2 separate regions of the Homo sapiens genome follow, and region 2 is linked to region 1. A link means that fine-mapping ties the variant in region 1 to the expression of a gene that starts in the linked region. Tissue or cell type: whole blood. Region 1 holds a variant in brackets; the other region holds the start of a gene. All regions are shown on one strand. Distances are between the middles of the regions.

The links. PIP is the estimated chance that this variant, and not a neighbour inherited with it, causes the effect.
Region 2: TMSB15B-AS1 starts here. The variant in region 1 is fine-mapped to the expression of TMSB15B-AS1 in whole blood (TOPMed, PIP 0.96).

The regions. Positions count from the first base shown.
Region 1 is chrX:103,882,620-103,890,729 of GRCh38, forward strand. All of the region lies in intron 4 of TMSB15B-AS1 (TMSB15B antisense RNA 1), which reads right to left. Among named protein-coding and RNA genes, the nearest start is that of TMSB15B-AS1, 33 kb to the right of the region's middle. The variant A/T (reference allele first, on the strand shown) is at 4,523.
Region 2 is chrX:103,915,064-103,923,173 of GRCh38, forward strand. TMSB15B-AS1 (TMSB15B antisense RNA 1) reads right to left here and starts at 4,485. Exons shown (of 5, transcript NR_146557.1): 1 at 4,362-4,485; 2 at 3,769-4,017; 3 at 3,346-3,397; 4 at 3,024-3,162. It also overlaps a transcript of TMSB15B not described here. RefSeq lists an enhancer at 4,411-4,500.

The sequences.
Region 1 (8,110 bases):
TGAAATGTTCTATATTGGCACTGTCCAATACAGTAGCTAGCAGCCACAGGTGGCTATTTTAATTTAATTTTTTGAAATTAAAAAGTCACTTTCTCAGTTGCACTAGGCACATGTCAAGTGCTCAAGAGCCACACATGACTAGTGTCTACCATATTGGACAGCACAGCCTAATAGTTTATTGTTTATCTTTCCAGAGTTTCCGTATACAAATAAAAGCAAATTAATATTGGTTTTTATTTCAGATTCCATCCACTTTCCCATAATAGAAATCAAATTTACCAATCTTTGGTTTGCGAGATTCTTTCAGAAACAAGTCTTATGAATGTAAGACACCAGGCAATCTGACAATATGTTAGCACAGTGGCCATAAATTGACAGTAAGACATACATTTTGGCCAAAAGTTCTGCCTTAAAGCTCTGTGATTTTGAGCAAGTTACTTAATTTTTCTGGGTCTATTTCCTCATCTGTAAAATGGAAATAATGTTACCTATCTCATGGGTATTGTGAGGACTAAGTGAGGACGTAGATGTATAATTTAGAATGGTGCCTACCTTGTACATAGTGATAAATACAGGCCTATCTCATTTTATTGCACTTCACTCTATTGCACTTGGCAGATACTGTGTTTTTTATGAATTAAAGACTTGGAGCAATTCTGCATCAGACAAGTCTATCAGCGACATTTTTCCAACAGCATGTTCTCATTTTGTGTCTCTGTGTCACCTTTTGATAATTCTTGCAGTATTTCTAACTTTTTCACTATTATTATATCTGTTGCAGTGATCAGTGATCTTTGATGTTACCGTTGTAATTCTTTTGGGGTACCATGAACTGTGCCCATATAAGATGGCAGGCTAACTCAGGCCTCCCTATTCCCTGAGACACAACAATATTGAAATTAGGCTAATTAATAACCCTACGGTGGCCTCTAAGAGTTCAAGTGAAAGGAATAGTCACATGTCTCTCACTTTAAATCAAAAGCTAGAAATGATTAAGCTTAGTGAGGAAGGAAAGTTGAAAGCTAACATAGGCTAAAAGCTAGGCCTCTTGTACCAGACAGTCAGCCAAGTTGTGAACACAAGGGAAAAGTTTGTGGAGGAAATTGAAAGTGTTACTCCAGTGAACACGTGAATGATAAGAAAGCAAAACAGACTTACTGCCCATATGGAAAAAGTTTGAGTTGTCTCCATAGAAATTCAAACAAGCTACAACATTCCCTTAAGCCAAAGCCTAACCCAGAGCAGGGCCCTAATTCTCTTCAATTCTGCAGAGGTTGAGAGAGATAAGGAAGCTGCAGAAGAAAAGTTGGAAGCCAGCAGAGGCTGGTTCATGAGGTTCAAGGAAAGAAGCTATCTTCATAACATAAAAGTGCAAGGTGAAGTGGCAAGTGCTGATGTAAAAGTTGCAAAAAGTTATCTAGAAAATCTAGCTAAGATAATCGATGAAAGTGGCTACACAAAACAACAAATTTTCAATGCAGACAAAACAGCCTTATATTGGAATAAGACGCCATCTAGGACTTTCACAGATAGAGAGAAGTCAATGCCTGGCTTCAATGACTTAAAGGACAGGCTGACTTTCTTGTTAGAGGCTAATGCAGCTGGTGATTTTAATTCGAAGCCAATTCTTATTGACCATTCCGAAAATCCTTGGGCCCTTAAGAATTATGCCAAATCTATGCTGCCTGTGCTCTAGAAATGAAACAACAAAGCCTGGATGATAACACATTTGTTTACAGCATAATTTACTGAATATTTTAAGCCCACTACTGAGACCTACTGCTCAGAAAAAAAGATTCCTTTCAAAATATTATGGCTCATTGACAATGTACCTAGTCACCCAAGAGCCCTGATGAAGATATACAAGGAGGTTAATGTTGTTTTCATGCCTGCTAACACAGCATTCATTCTGTAGCCCATAGATCACGGTGTAACTTTGACTTTCAAGTCTTACTATTTAAGAAATACATTTCATAAGGCTATAGCTGCTGTAGATATTGATTCCTCTCATGGATCTGAGCAAAGAAAATTGAAAACCTCTGGAAAGGATTCACCATTCTAGATGCCATTAAGAACTTTCATGGTTTATGGGAGGAGGTCAAAATATCAACATTTACAGGAGTTTGGAAGAAGTTGATTCGAACTCTCATGGATAACTTTGAGGGGTTCAAGACTTCAGTGGAGAAAGTCACTGCAGATGTGGTGGAAATAGCAAGAGAACTAGAATTAGAAGTGTAGCCTGAAGATGTGGCAGAATTGCTGCAATCTCTTGATAAATCTTGAATGGATGAGGAGTTGTTTCTTTTTTAAAAATTATTATTATACATTAAGTTCTAGGGTACATCTGCACAACATGCAGGTTTGTTACATAGGCATACATGTGCCATGTTGGTTTGCTGCACCCATCAACTCATCATTTACATTAGGTATTTCTCCTAATGCTATCCCTCCCCCAGCTCCCCATCACCTGACTGGCCCCAGTGTGTGATGATCCCTTCCCTGTGTCCATGTGTTATCATTGTGCAACTCCCACCTATGAGTGAGAACATGCGGTGTTTGGTTTTCTGTCCTTGTGATAGTTTGCTGAGAATGAGAGTTTCCAACTTCGTCCATTAACCTGCAAAGGACATGAACTCATCCATTTTTATGGCTGCATAGTATTCAATGGTGTATATGTGCCACATTTTCTTAATCCAATCTATCACTGATGGACATTTGGGTTGGTTCCAAGTCTTTGCTATTGTGAATAGTGCCACAATAAACATATGTGTGCATGTGTCTTTATCATAGAATGATTTACAATCCTTTGGGTATATGCCCAGTAATGGGATTGCTGGGTTAAATGGTATTTCTAGTTCTAGATCCTTGCCACACTGTCTTCCACAATGGTTGAACTAATTTTCACTCCCACCAACAGTGTAAAAGCATTCCTATTTCTCCACATCCTCTCCAGCATCTGTTGCTTCCTGACTTTTTAATGATCTCCATTCTAACTGGCATGAGATGGTAACTCATTGTTTTTGATTTGCATTTCTCTGATGACCAGTGATGATGAGCATTTTTTCATATGTCTGTTGGCTGCATAAATGTCTTCTTTTGAGAAGTGTCTGTTCATATCCTTTGCCCACTTTTTGATGGGGTTGTTTTTTCTTGTAAATTTGTTTAAGGTCTTTGTAGATTCTGGATATTAGCCCTTTGTCAGGTGGGTAGATTGCAAAAATTTTCTCCCATTCTGTAGGTTGCCTGTTCACTCCGATGATAGTTTATTTTGCTGTGCAGAAGCTCTTTAGTTTAATTAGATCCCATTTGTCAATTTTGGCTTTTGTTGCCATTGCCTTTGGTGTTTTAGTCATGAAGTCTTTGCCCATGCCTATGTCCTGAATGGTATTGCCTAGGTTTTCTTCTAGGGTTTTTATGGTGTTAGGTCTTACATTTAAATCTTTAATCCGTCTTGAGTTAAATTTTGTATACAGTGTAATGAAGGGATCCAGTTTCAGCTTTCTACATATGGCTAGCCAGTTTTCCGAGCACCATTTATTAAATAGGGAATCTTTTCCCCATTTCTTGTTTTTGTCACATTTGTGAAAGATCAGATAGTTGTAGATATGTGGCATTATTTCTGAGGGCTCTGTTTGGTTCCTTTGGTTTATATATCTGTTTTGGTACCAGTACCATGCTGTTTTGGTTACTGTAACCTTGCAGTATAGTTTGAAGTCAGGTAGCGTGATGCCTCCAGCTTTGTTCTTTTTGCTTAGGAGTGTCTTGGCTATGCGGGCTCCTTTTTGGTTCCATATGAACTTTAAAGTAGTTTTTTCCAATTCTGTGAAGAAAGTCACTGGTAGCTTGATGGGGATAGCATTGAATCTATAAATTACTTTGGGCAGTAAGGCTATTTTCACAATATTGGTTCTTCCTATCCATGAGCATGGGGGAGTGGTTTCTTATGGATGAGCAAAGTAGCTTCTTGAGATGGCATCTACTCTTGGTGAAGGTGCTGTGAATAGTGTTGAAATGACAACAAAGGATTTAGAATATTACATAAATTTAGTTGATAAAACAGTGTCAGGGTTTGAAAGCACTGACTCCAATTTTGAAAGAAGTTCTACTGTAGGTAAATGCTATTAAACAGCATCACATGCCACAGAGAAATCTTTCATGAAAGGAAGAGTCAATTGATGTGGCCAACTTCATTGCTGTTTTATTTTAAGAAATTGCCACAGCCACCCCAACCATCAGCAACTGCCATCCTTATCAGTCAGCAACCATCAACATCAAAGGAAGACCCTCCTCCACCAGTAAGATTACAACTCATTAAAGGCTCAGATGATCATTAGCATTTTTTAGCAGCAAAGTATTTTTAAATTAAGTTACATATGTTTTTTAGAATAATGCTATTGTATACTTAAGAGACTACAGTATAGTGTAAATATAACTTTTATATATACTAGGAAACCAAAAAATTTGTGTTACTGACTTTATTGTGATAATTTACTTCATTGCAGTCGTCTGGAACTGAACCCAC[A/T]ATATGTTCAAGGTATGTGTGTATTTGAAGGTTGATGAGGCTAGATTTGTTGGAGTATGTGTTGGGGGATAGGGATGGGTTGGGGAATAAAAGCCAAACTTCAATCATTTGAGGAGTGAGTGGGTGATGAGAAATGGACATATAAACAGAGTACTCTTTCAAAGAAGTTTGAATTAAAAACAGAAAATGGATACTGGTCAGTGAGTAGCAAAAGTGAGGTGTGGTATCACAGGAGAGTTTTTTAAGACTGGATATCTAAGAATGTTTCAGAGGTATCCAATAATAGTGGTAGAATCTCAACTAATGATATTGTTGTTATATTACTCTCATCATCACTATACCTCTACCATACTAATTTCCATAAAATACACATTTTATCTCCCCACTTCACTGGATAAACTCTAAATTCCTCTGCTTGGGATGTAGGGTCTTCCATAAAGGTAGCATACCATCTAGCTTTATCATTTATATGCTTCATAACATTGGGCAGCTTGCTTAATTTCTCTGAGACCTAATTTCCTCATCTGTAAATTGAAATGGCCCACACTTAACCTTAGCAGGATACAGAAAGATAACTTGGGGCTTCTTTCTAACCTCACTCCTGATAGTCCTTGAAGAAGACCCAGCTTCCATGAGACTTGTTTTTAATTCCTACTGCAGAGAGGTGCTGGAGTTTGCTAGTTCTCTGTGTATGCTGAGCAATTAAATGCTGCCTCTTAATCAAATGCTGATTGCATATTTATTTCATTTTGGTGTTGGAAATCCAAAGCAACATCAATGGGTTACATTTCATGAGAACTTGCTAAATTTTGTGAGATGTGTAGACATTTATTTTTTATTTTTATTCTTTTCTTGAGACAGGGTCTCATTCTGTCTGCCAGGCTGGAATGCAGTGGCACAATCATGGCTTACTGCAGCCTCAAACTCCTGGGCTCCAGCAATCCTCCTGTCTAGTTTCCTGAGTAGCTGTGACTACAAGTGTGCACTACCACATCTGGCTACTTTTTCAATTTTTTTGTAGAGACAGTGCCTTGCTATGTTGCCCAGGATGATCTTGAACTCCTGGGCTCAAGCGATCCTCTCACCTTGACCTCCCAAAGTGCTGGGATTATAGGGGTCAGCCACCGTGTTCAGACTACACGTTTATTTTTAATCTAACAAACACATAATGCTTACACTAGGATTGTTTCCAAGGAACACTTAATATATACTAGAATGTTTCTAAGCACTCCAAAGGTATTAACTCATACAACCCTCATAATAATCCCACTTACAGGTGGGAAAATTAAGGCACATAAAGGTTAAGTAAGTTGCTCAACATCACTTAGCTGGTAAGTGGTAGAGCTTGGATTTGAAACCAGGGCATCTAGCTTTAGATTTTGTGCACCCCATCACTACACTATAATGCACCTCACTTAAGCTTAACAACAACCCAGTGAAGCAGGTACTGTTATTATTCTTATTTTACCCTGAGACTCAGAGAAATTAGGTTACTTGCCTAAAGTCACATGGCTAGTAAGTGGTGGGTGAGGTTTGAACCAGGTTTGTCTGATTCCTAGGCATTTTGACAACATGTTAACTAGTCATTCCACTAACAGTTTGATCCTTTTTTGCCATATGTGCATATCACCCATACAATTATTTATTTAAGAAAGCTATTTTAATTAACTGATTTTAAATAACTTTTTTGTATTTTGTAAGCAATAATATCTATGGTTTCACAGATAACATGTTATTGACATATTTTTAATTAAACGGCATAAACTGTTTTTAAAAATCTGTGTACCTCCGTGGACATAGAGCGTGGAATAATAAACATTGGAGACTTGGAAAGGTGGGAGGAGGGTGAAGGATCAGAAATTGCTTAATGGGTACAATGTACACTATTTGGGTGATGGTTACACTGAAGGCCTGGACTTCACCACTGTGCAATATATCCATGTAACAAAACTGCACCTGTACCTCTTATATTTATACAAATAAAAAATTCCTTACAAGTCTGTGTACCACTTAAAACTATCTCATGTACCTGAAGAGGCATGTACACCACATTTTGGGTATTGCATCATATTACACTTTTAACCCATAGCCCACTCTTCATCTCCAAAGTTCTGTTCAAACCCCTTTTCCCAAAAATCACATGGGCTATTAGTTTCTCTTCTGGAGTCAAGGAAAGAAAATATCTTTAGTGGAGTACCTAGACTGGTCAAAACCCAGTGATTAGGATAATACGTGCATTCCAATGGATGCTGGTAATATTTTGCGGTTGGAGGTGGGGGAGCAGTGCAGGAGAATCATTCATCATACAAACAGAGCCAATAAAAACATTATTCAAATATTTACAAATGTTTCACTTGTACTGCAACATGCTGCCGTCCTAGAAGGGAGCAAAACAGGCTTGGTCCACTCTACTTATTCAAATTATCTGCTTGGCTTTGTAGATCTTTTCAGGACATATCTGTACTGCCACGTTCATTGTGGCTTTATTCACAATGGCAAACTCAGTGCTCATAGATGTATGAATTGATAAAAAGTTGTGACATCTATATCTGTATATAGACATAGACATATACACACACATTAAGATATTATTTGACCTTAGAAAAGAAGGGTATAATGCCATTATGACAATATGGATGAACCTGGAGGATAAACCTCCAGGTTTATTAAGTGAAATAAGCCAATAACAGAAAGAAAAATGCTGTATCTCACTTATACGTAAGATCTAAGAAAAAAAGTCAAACACACAGAAATAGAGTAGAAGGGTGGTTAGCAGGTGTGGAGGGGGGGTGGCAGGAAATGGGGAGATGTAAATTAAAGAATGCAAATTTGTAGTTTTGCAGGATAAATAAATTTAGAGATTTCTACAAGAGTAGAGCTGTAGTTAATAATATTGTATTGTATGTTAAAAATTTGCTAAGAGAATAGATTTTATGTGCTCTCATCACACACACACACACACGGACAAACACAAAGGTAATAAACTAATAACAGACTAAACTGTGAGACTTCCAGAGCTTACTCGAACCAACCAATCAGAACTCACACACACAAAGGTAAGAGACTAATAACAGAACAAACTGTGAAACTTCCAGAGCTCACTTGAACCAACCAATCAGAGCTCACGGGCCTCAACCAACCAAGGCTCAACTGTCTCGACTAATCAGGGCTCAGTTCTATCATCCATCAAAACTAAATGAGTCAGAATCCTTCATTTTGCACAAACCTACCTGAAAGGGAACCTGGGAAGGAAATTTTGCTATAAAACTTGAATTCTTCCTTTCTTCTTTGGAACACATCTTTATTTTACATCAAAGGCTGTGTCTCTGTGGTTTGCCAACTATAAAATGGAACCTAGTTGCTCTCTTACAAATTGCTTTACAGATAACTTTTTTTTTTCAAAATGTCATTTACAGGTTCCTACATTATTATAAAAGGGTTATTTAATTTTATTTTTAAACAGTGAGTGGAATATTTAAGAAAACTGATGAAATATTGGGCATTGAAGCAAATCAACAAATTTCAAGAATAGATTCACAAAGTTTATTTCCTTTCCACAGAGGTAAAAAACTACAAATCAATTATTTA
Region 2 (8,110 bases), 32 kb after region 1:
CCTGGATTATGGGTTGGTGATCCTTGCTCGAGACAATAAAGTTTGAGATGACAAAAGCCCCTTATGGATGAGACTTCTTATGACAAATCCTGCCGAGAGCTAGGCACATTCAGAACAAAATAAAATCTCTCCGCTTCCCAGCGAAGAGATTTGTTAGACCAGACACCTGCTTTGACCCAAAAATCACTTCCCCTGGATGGTGGCAAGCAAGAGAGAGTGCTTCCTCTTGCTCACAAATCAAGCTCTCAAGAACACAGATCAAGACAAGAGGGAACTTTATCCTGTAACCCTCTCTATGAACAACACAGAAAGACAAAGTCAAAGGAATACACTGTTTCTGGCATGAAAGGGATAAAAAATGTGAATATTCATACCACAAAGTAGTGTAAGGTGTACCAGAGTTGCTACACCTAGACCAGTCACACAACAATCTTTTTCTCCTAGGCATGAAACCTTGTAGAGGAGACAAACAGAGGGATTTGTTTTGTACCATCTGCCCAACTGGGTTGTACAGAGAGAGAAGCTGGGGGCCTGACTGGTAAGAAATTCTTGCCCTTTTGCCACCTTGTCAGATGACTGCATTCCCTTAACTTCAGGTTCCAGAAGAGTGGAGTGGCTTTGGTGACCCTTCTTGCTATACCAAATTGTGTGAAGGTTTGCTAAGAAATCAACTCACAAAAGGCAGATTAACAAGAGAAAAAGCATACAAGGCCGGGCGCAGTGGCTCACACCTGTAATCCCAGCACTATGGGAGGCTGAGGCAGGCGGATCACGAGGTTAGGAGATCGAGACCATCCTGGCTAACACGGTGAAACCCCGTCTCCACTAAAAATACAAAAAATTAGCCCGGCGTGGTGGCGGGCGCCTGTAGTCCCAGCTACTTGGGAGGCTGAGGCAGGAGAATGGTGTGAACCTGGGAGGGGGAGGTTGCAGTGAGCAGAGATTGCACCACTCCAGCCTGGGTGACAGAGCGAGACTCCGTCTCAAAAAAAAAAAAAGCATACAAATTTATTTAACATATATACACTGCAGCCTTCGGAGCAAAGGCAGAAAGGTACAGGGTAAATTGTCTATTTATATGCTCAGGTTCAACAAAGTATGGACAGCCCTGTAGAAATATGATGGGACAAAAAGGCTAAGACCTAATGCTAATCCAGCAGGGCTTGTTTGTCTAGACTGTGCTTGGCTTCTGTGAACACAGATTTCTTCCTCCTGGGTATGGGGCAGGACCCTCTCTGTAATGGGGTCTTGTGACCTGCAGTCAAACAAGGTCAGATCATTTCTTTATGACCAGTTTTACACAAAAAAGGTGGAGGAAAAATTAGAAAAGTATTTTTAGGCTTTGTGACTATCTTTAGAAAAAAAGGCTTCTGGTTTCTAGGACCCACCTTGGGGAAGAGGGATTCTGGTCTGTACAGTTAGCTCCCTGGGAAGAATGGGGCTGACAGACAGGAGGACCCAGGACCTCAGAGAACATCTTTTACATCCGAGACTACTTCTGGGGCCTTTATTTTGGGGTATCATGCTCTGAGCCCCAACAATAGAAGTCAGCTGCATGTGCAAGTTCATCACTTACAATTTTTACTTTCCTCAAAAACACTAAGAAAACAATACAGACCAAACCTTTGCCACTGTAAAACTAGGATTGCCTTTCCTCAAGCTTCCAGTAACATCTTCCTAGTTTCGGTCTCATAACTCACCACAAGCACCTTTAACACTCATAGCTCTAGCAACATATCGGTGATCATGATATATGTATTCTCTAAGTCAGAGATCCTTTGTCTGCAGCAAATAATTCTTTTCTTAACCCTCACTTGAATTGCATTTGGTGTCCATATTTCCCCCAGCCATCTCCTAAAGGCCCTCTAGGCTTCTTGTGCCATGCATGTCAAAATGCTTCCAGTCTCTATCCATTATCTAGTTCCAAAGCTGCTTCCACTCTTTCAGGTGTTAGCTATCAGATCTGTCTGGCAACAGAATCCCTATTGGTTTGCTCTGTTAGCCTGACAATGTACCACAGACCTGGGTGGCCTAAACAGCAGACATTAATTGTTCACAGTTCTGGAGGTTGGAAGTCCAAATCAAAGCGTCAGCTGGGTTGTTTCCTTCTGAGTAATAAGAGGGAAGGATCTCTTCCAGGGATTTTTCCTCAGCTTGTAGATGGCCCACTTCTCTGTATGCTACTTCACATTTTCTTCCCTGTACACATGTCTCTTTGTCTGAATTTCCCCTTTTGATAGGCACAATGCACGCTAGCCATTTCGAGTTAGAGCCCACCCTAATGAATGTAATTTAACTTCAGTATCCCACTAAAAAACCCATCTTCAAGTAGGAGAGAGACGAGGGGTCAGGAGTCCAATAGATGTATTTGGTGTTTTTTTTTGGGGGGGGGGACACAACTGAACCCATAGGACATAGGAATCCTGAGTTGTAGGTGGGAATACCTCCTGCCTCTTCCATTATGTTAAGAGAACACTGGTAACTGATGAAGGGAAAGAAGGTGACTCCTACCCATCTTTTTTCAAGACTACTTGAATGTTGAGTAATTTTATACACACACACACGCACACACACACACATTTATATATATATATATATATATATATATATATATATATAAAATCTGGTTTATTCCATTAAATTCTCTAGGTATAATGAGAGTGAAAAAGCTAAGGAACATTGTTAGAGATATAATGTTGATCTGACTAATCCTTATAAAGGGAAACCTAGGAATATAAGAGACAGAAATGACCATGTAGTAAAGGGATTAAATGGAAAATTATTAAATGAAAATTATTACTGTCCTTGAAGCAAGTTGCGCTATAGATATATTAGAGTTGACAATGTTTAGTTCTCGGAAAAAGAATGCATGAAAAATCTTCAGGACGCCACAGGCCACCTGCCCCTCCCCTTTACTACCTCCCCCCGCAAGAGGTAATAAGAACCCATTAATCTCATGACCTCAGGTCTCAATCACACACCCCTTTGTCAAAGTTTACCCCCGTTATTTCTCAGATTCTTACATGAGCTCGGAAACTAGCGTTCCCCTGTATTTTACTTGCAGCCTCTCAACAGGTGCCTGCCTTGAGAAAATTAGCCTCTGGGGTAGAGTCGACTTTTGTCCACTGGGGGTCGCAGATCCCAGTCCTCAGGGCCTCAAGACTGTGCCGCGAAGGAAGGAAAGGAAGGGTTGGGAGCAGCCTCTTCTGAAAACCTGATACCTCCCCTCCACCGCCTCCTCTGTCGCCAGGCGGAAAATTCCCTCTCCCATCTTCTGAACACAAGCCAAAGTGCCTCCTGCACTCCCGCCCCCCGTACATTTCCTGCGGGAAACCGTCGGCCTACCAGCTCTGCAATCAGCCGCACAGAATTCAAATTCGGATTCGGCTTTGATGACCTGCCGGAGAGAAAGGGACTAGAAGTTGGATGACCTCCCACCCCCATATTCCTTCCCAGGAAGAGATGAGGAGATGCAAAAGGGGTTCAAGACAGCTTGCGATCGTCTTCTCCCGCCCCTTGCCACCTCCCCGAACACCCGCCCCCGACGCCCGACAACACCCCCGCCCACTTCAATCCAGGCAAATCATAAATCCTACCCAGTCGGCAGCATCCAGATGAGCCACAACTCCTTTCTCAGCGCAACCAGGCCATGGGAGTGCTCCATCCCCTGCCTCGCAGTTACTGATTCTCCAAGCCGGGCGCCGCCCAGTCCTGGTGGGGCTTCCCCCACCCCTCTCCGCGCCGGGAAATCGCGCGCTCTTTCTTTACCTGCGCTCCACTGGTGGGCAGCGTATGCTCCCGCGTCGACAGCTCTGTTTCGCCTTCCGGTCCCCATAGCTCTGCAGGGGAACAGGATCGCTGGCGCCTCCTGGGCCGCTAAGCGACCCCGGGGCTGCCCGGCTTAGCGAGTGCTTCGCAGAGAGGTAGCCGAGTCGAGGCAGCGCGGTTCCCAAGGAAGTCACGGCTGCGGCCACCCTCCAGTTCGGACCTCCGGGCAGCCGCGGTTGCTTTCAGTCTCTGCCCATTGAGACAAAAGAGCGTGACAAGCCGCGCGACGCGGCCAATCAGCGGGGCGAGGAGGCGGCCTACCCAAGCAGCCTCTGGCCCTGAAGCTACTGCTAGCAAGACTCGGGAGCTGGCTGGCGGGGGCTGAGGCCGACAGGCACGGGAGCCGGCGCGGCGTCAAGTGGAGCTCGGACGCACGGACCAGGCCCATTTCCCTTTCATCTGTGAGTTTGCTGCTACCCCGTCGCTTCCCTTCTCCCCATCCCCTTCCGCCTCGGCTCTGCTCCGGGCTTTGAGACCGGATGCCTGAAACACGAGGTGGGACAGAAACCAAGTGAACAATGAGAGTTCCTTACCTTTGTATAGGGGGAAGGGGGGAAACAGCATTTACTGAGTGCTTTCTGTGTGCGGATGCGCCTGTCTCCTTTCTTCTCAGCAGCCCTGTGAAGGAGGTAGCAGTGTGCCCACTTAACAGGAAAGGACTGAAACACCCAGGCGGTACAGTTAGGAAGTGCAGAGCTAAGAGCTCACTCCCAAGTCAACATATCTGACTTCAAAGGCTACCCCTTGCCAACACTCCTCTATTCTGTTAGATTAAGGGATAGCGGAGAAAAACCAAAGCCAGGATGGGAGGACCAACTTGGGACTGCATAGAATTAGTGAGCAAGAACTGTTATCTCCATTTCACAGATGAAGAAACTGAGCCAAAGACAGAGAGGTTAAGCGTCTTGCACTGTATCCCGCAGCAAAGAAGTTACAGCATCCAACTTAGCACCTGTATGTTGCTCTCTAGATGCTAATTGTTTGCCCTGCAGCATTGTCTGAAGAGCACTTTTGCACAGGTAGTCTCAAACCATCTCAACAGCAGTCTCAATGTGATGATAGTGCTGAGGGAGGGGGTGAGGAGGTAGTAGGGAGAGGGCTGAGGGAAGATGAAGGCAACCTTTATGGTGCCCATTGTACAGAAGAGGAAACTCTTCTTGGCACTCTTCTTTCCTTCGTTTTTTTAAAAATACTTTTTTTTATACTACAAAAAGCTGCCCTTTTTATAAAAGCAACATAATTTCGACAGCCCTTTGTGACGCCAAGGGAGGCAAGGCTCAGAGAGGTAAAATGATTTGTCTGAAATTACAAGGTGAAGCCAAAATTTGGACCGAATCTCTGAATCCAGAACTCATACTATTAACTAAAGTGAGTAAAAAGTGGGCTGCCTCAGAATCATTTTGGAGAGCTTGTTATAAATGCAGATTCCTGGGCCTTACCCCTGGGGGATTTTGATGTACTAGGACTACAGGTAAAGAGTGTGATTTGTAGTTTTAAACAGCCCCATAGTTGATTCTGAGGTGTAGAGAGATTCGTGAACCACTGTTCTAAACACCACCACGTGATGCTGAAGGTTATAAGTAAATGGGCCTGTCATCAGTGTATTTGTCCATGGCATATCTGTTATGAAATGTAACTCCAGAGCACAGGTTCCTACCCGCGGTCCTTCCTGGAACTGTATGCAAAGAATCTGGACTCCGTACATTCTTCTGAGTCCACAGCTTTGCAGATTTTCAAATGGGTCTGTCATAATGTCTTCCTTCTTCAAGCCATGCTTGATGAAGAAGTGTGAGAAATCAAACCCCATTTAACCTAACCCCCAAACCACAGCTCTCTGTTGCTGATATGGCTCTTTCATTTCCTGGCTCAAGGACAGGTTGCTAGGTTGCCCTTCTGTGAGCTCTTCAGGGGACTTCTCCTTTGCTGGATTTGGCATCACTGGCCCCAGAGAAGGAGCAACTCCATGGAAACAGCATGCAGGGCTGTCCAAAGTGAATGGCCATGAAGGCAGTGGCTGGAAAACCTGCTCCATTTTTCCCTGACTTAGAGAGCAGGTATTACTTCCTTTATGTATAGTGTGGCTAGGAGGCTCCTGTGGGGCCTGTTCTTGACTCCTGATGCTTGGAAGCAAGTGAACAGTCTGAAGCCCTTCCACTGCCGTTGGCTTCATCTTCAGCCTGCCAAGGCACTTCACTCACTCATTTCCACCCTCTTATTTACAACCCCAAGATGTAGAGTTCCTTGGAGTAAACAATACAGATTTGGAGATGAAGCACTTTCCATCTCAGGATTGTGGCCTGTGGATGGAACAGTGGGGTAGTGGTGGTGGAAGGTGGAAAGTGTGGATGTATGGAGAAGGCAGGTTGCTCACCTCGCACACTTAGGGGTGATGGTGGCAGTAGCTCTTAGGTTTCCTTCAGACTTTTGCTTCTGCTCCCCTGTCCCGTGACATCTGACTCTTGCCTCCCAGAAGACTCTTGTTCAGTGTTTAAATTGGCTTTATCACCAAATTAGGTATTTGCAGCTGGACTTGGTAGGGATGGAATCACATAAGACCAAGAATAGGTGTCAGAGCTCGGACAAAAATAATGACAGGAAATGGATTGTGTAAAGGTGCCAGAGTTGGACTACTGGAACAAAGCGAGAGACATTTTGTGCAGGGATGGGGGGAGTATTTGCAACCTGGCTCCAATTGGATACAGGACATCCTATCTCTGGCCTCATGTGTGTGAGTCTGTTCCAACTGATGGCTCTAATGAGACCACATTTTGTAATTTTAACACATAAACCTTAGAAGCTTGAAGGTTTAGAGATAAAGCTTTCAGCTGAAACAATAATAGCTGCCTTTGGCTGCCTTCCTCCTTTGTACCAGGAACTTTCTATCTGTTATCTCATTTAAGCTTCCCAGCAACACTGTTGAGACAGCCATTGTATCCCATTTTGCAGAGAGGGAAACTGAATTTCAGGGATGTTAAGTAACTTGTGTAAGGCTTCACAACTTTTAAGTGCAGGCACTGGGATTGCAGGCCAGGGATGTCAAACTCCAAAGCCCATGAAAACTCTTCTTTGCTGCCTTCCAAACAAGCAGTCTAAAAGGCATTCTGCAGATAACCCAGTTCATTAGACCGATTGCAGCTTTTAGAACAATTTAGTTGTTATCTTGCCTTTATTCCTATTATCTCTCTCTCTCTCTCTTTTTTTTTTTTTTGAGACGGAGTCTCCCACTGTCACCCAGGCTGGGGTGCAGTGGTGCGATCTCAGCTCACTGCAAGCTCTGCCCTATTATCTCATTTTTATTTAATTTATTTATTTATTTATTTTTTATTAGTGCTATACTTTAAGTTCTAGGGTACATATGCACAACGTGCAGGTTTGTTACATATGTATACATGTACCATGTTGGTGTGCTGCACCCATTAACTCGTCATTTACATTAGGTATATCTCCTAATGCTAACCCTCCCCCCTCCCCCACCCCACGACAGGCCCCAGTGTGTGATGTTCCCCATCCTGTGTCCAAGTGTTCTCATTGTTCAATTCCCACCTATGAGTGAGAACATGCAGTGTTTTGTTTTCTGTCCTTGCGACAGTTTGCTCAGAATGATGGTTTCCAGCTTCATCCATGTCCCTACAAAGGACATGAACTCGTCCTTTTTTATGGCTTCATACTATTCCATGGTGTATATGTGCCACATTTTCTTAATCCAGTCTATTATTGACGGACATTTGGGTTGGTTCCAAGTCTTTGCTATCGTGAATAGTGCTGCAATAAACATGCATGTGCATGTGTCTTTATAGCAGCATGATTTATAATCCTTTGGGTATATACCCAGTAATGGGATGGCTGGGTCAAATGGTATTTCTAGTTCTAGATCCCTGAGGAATCGCCACACTGTCTTCCACAATGGTTGAACTAGTTCACAGTCCCACCAACAGTGTAAAAGTGTTCCTGTTTCTCCACATCCTCTCCAGCACCTGTTGTTTCCTGACTTGTTAATGATCACCATTCTAACTGGTGTGAGATGCTATCTCATTGTGGTTTTGATTTGCATTTTTCTGATGGCCAGTGATGATGAGCATTTTTTCATGTGTCTGTTGGCTGCATAAATGTCTTCTTTTGAGAAGTGTCCATATCCTTCACCCACTTTTTGATGGGGTTGTTTGATTTTTTCTTGTACATTTGTTTAGGTTCTTTGTAGATTCTGGATATTAGCCCTTTGTCAGATGGGTAGATTGCAAAAATTTTCTCCCATTCTGTAGGTTGCCTATTCACTCTGATGGTA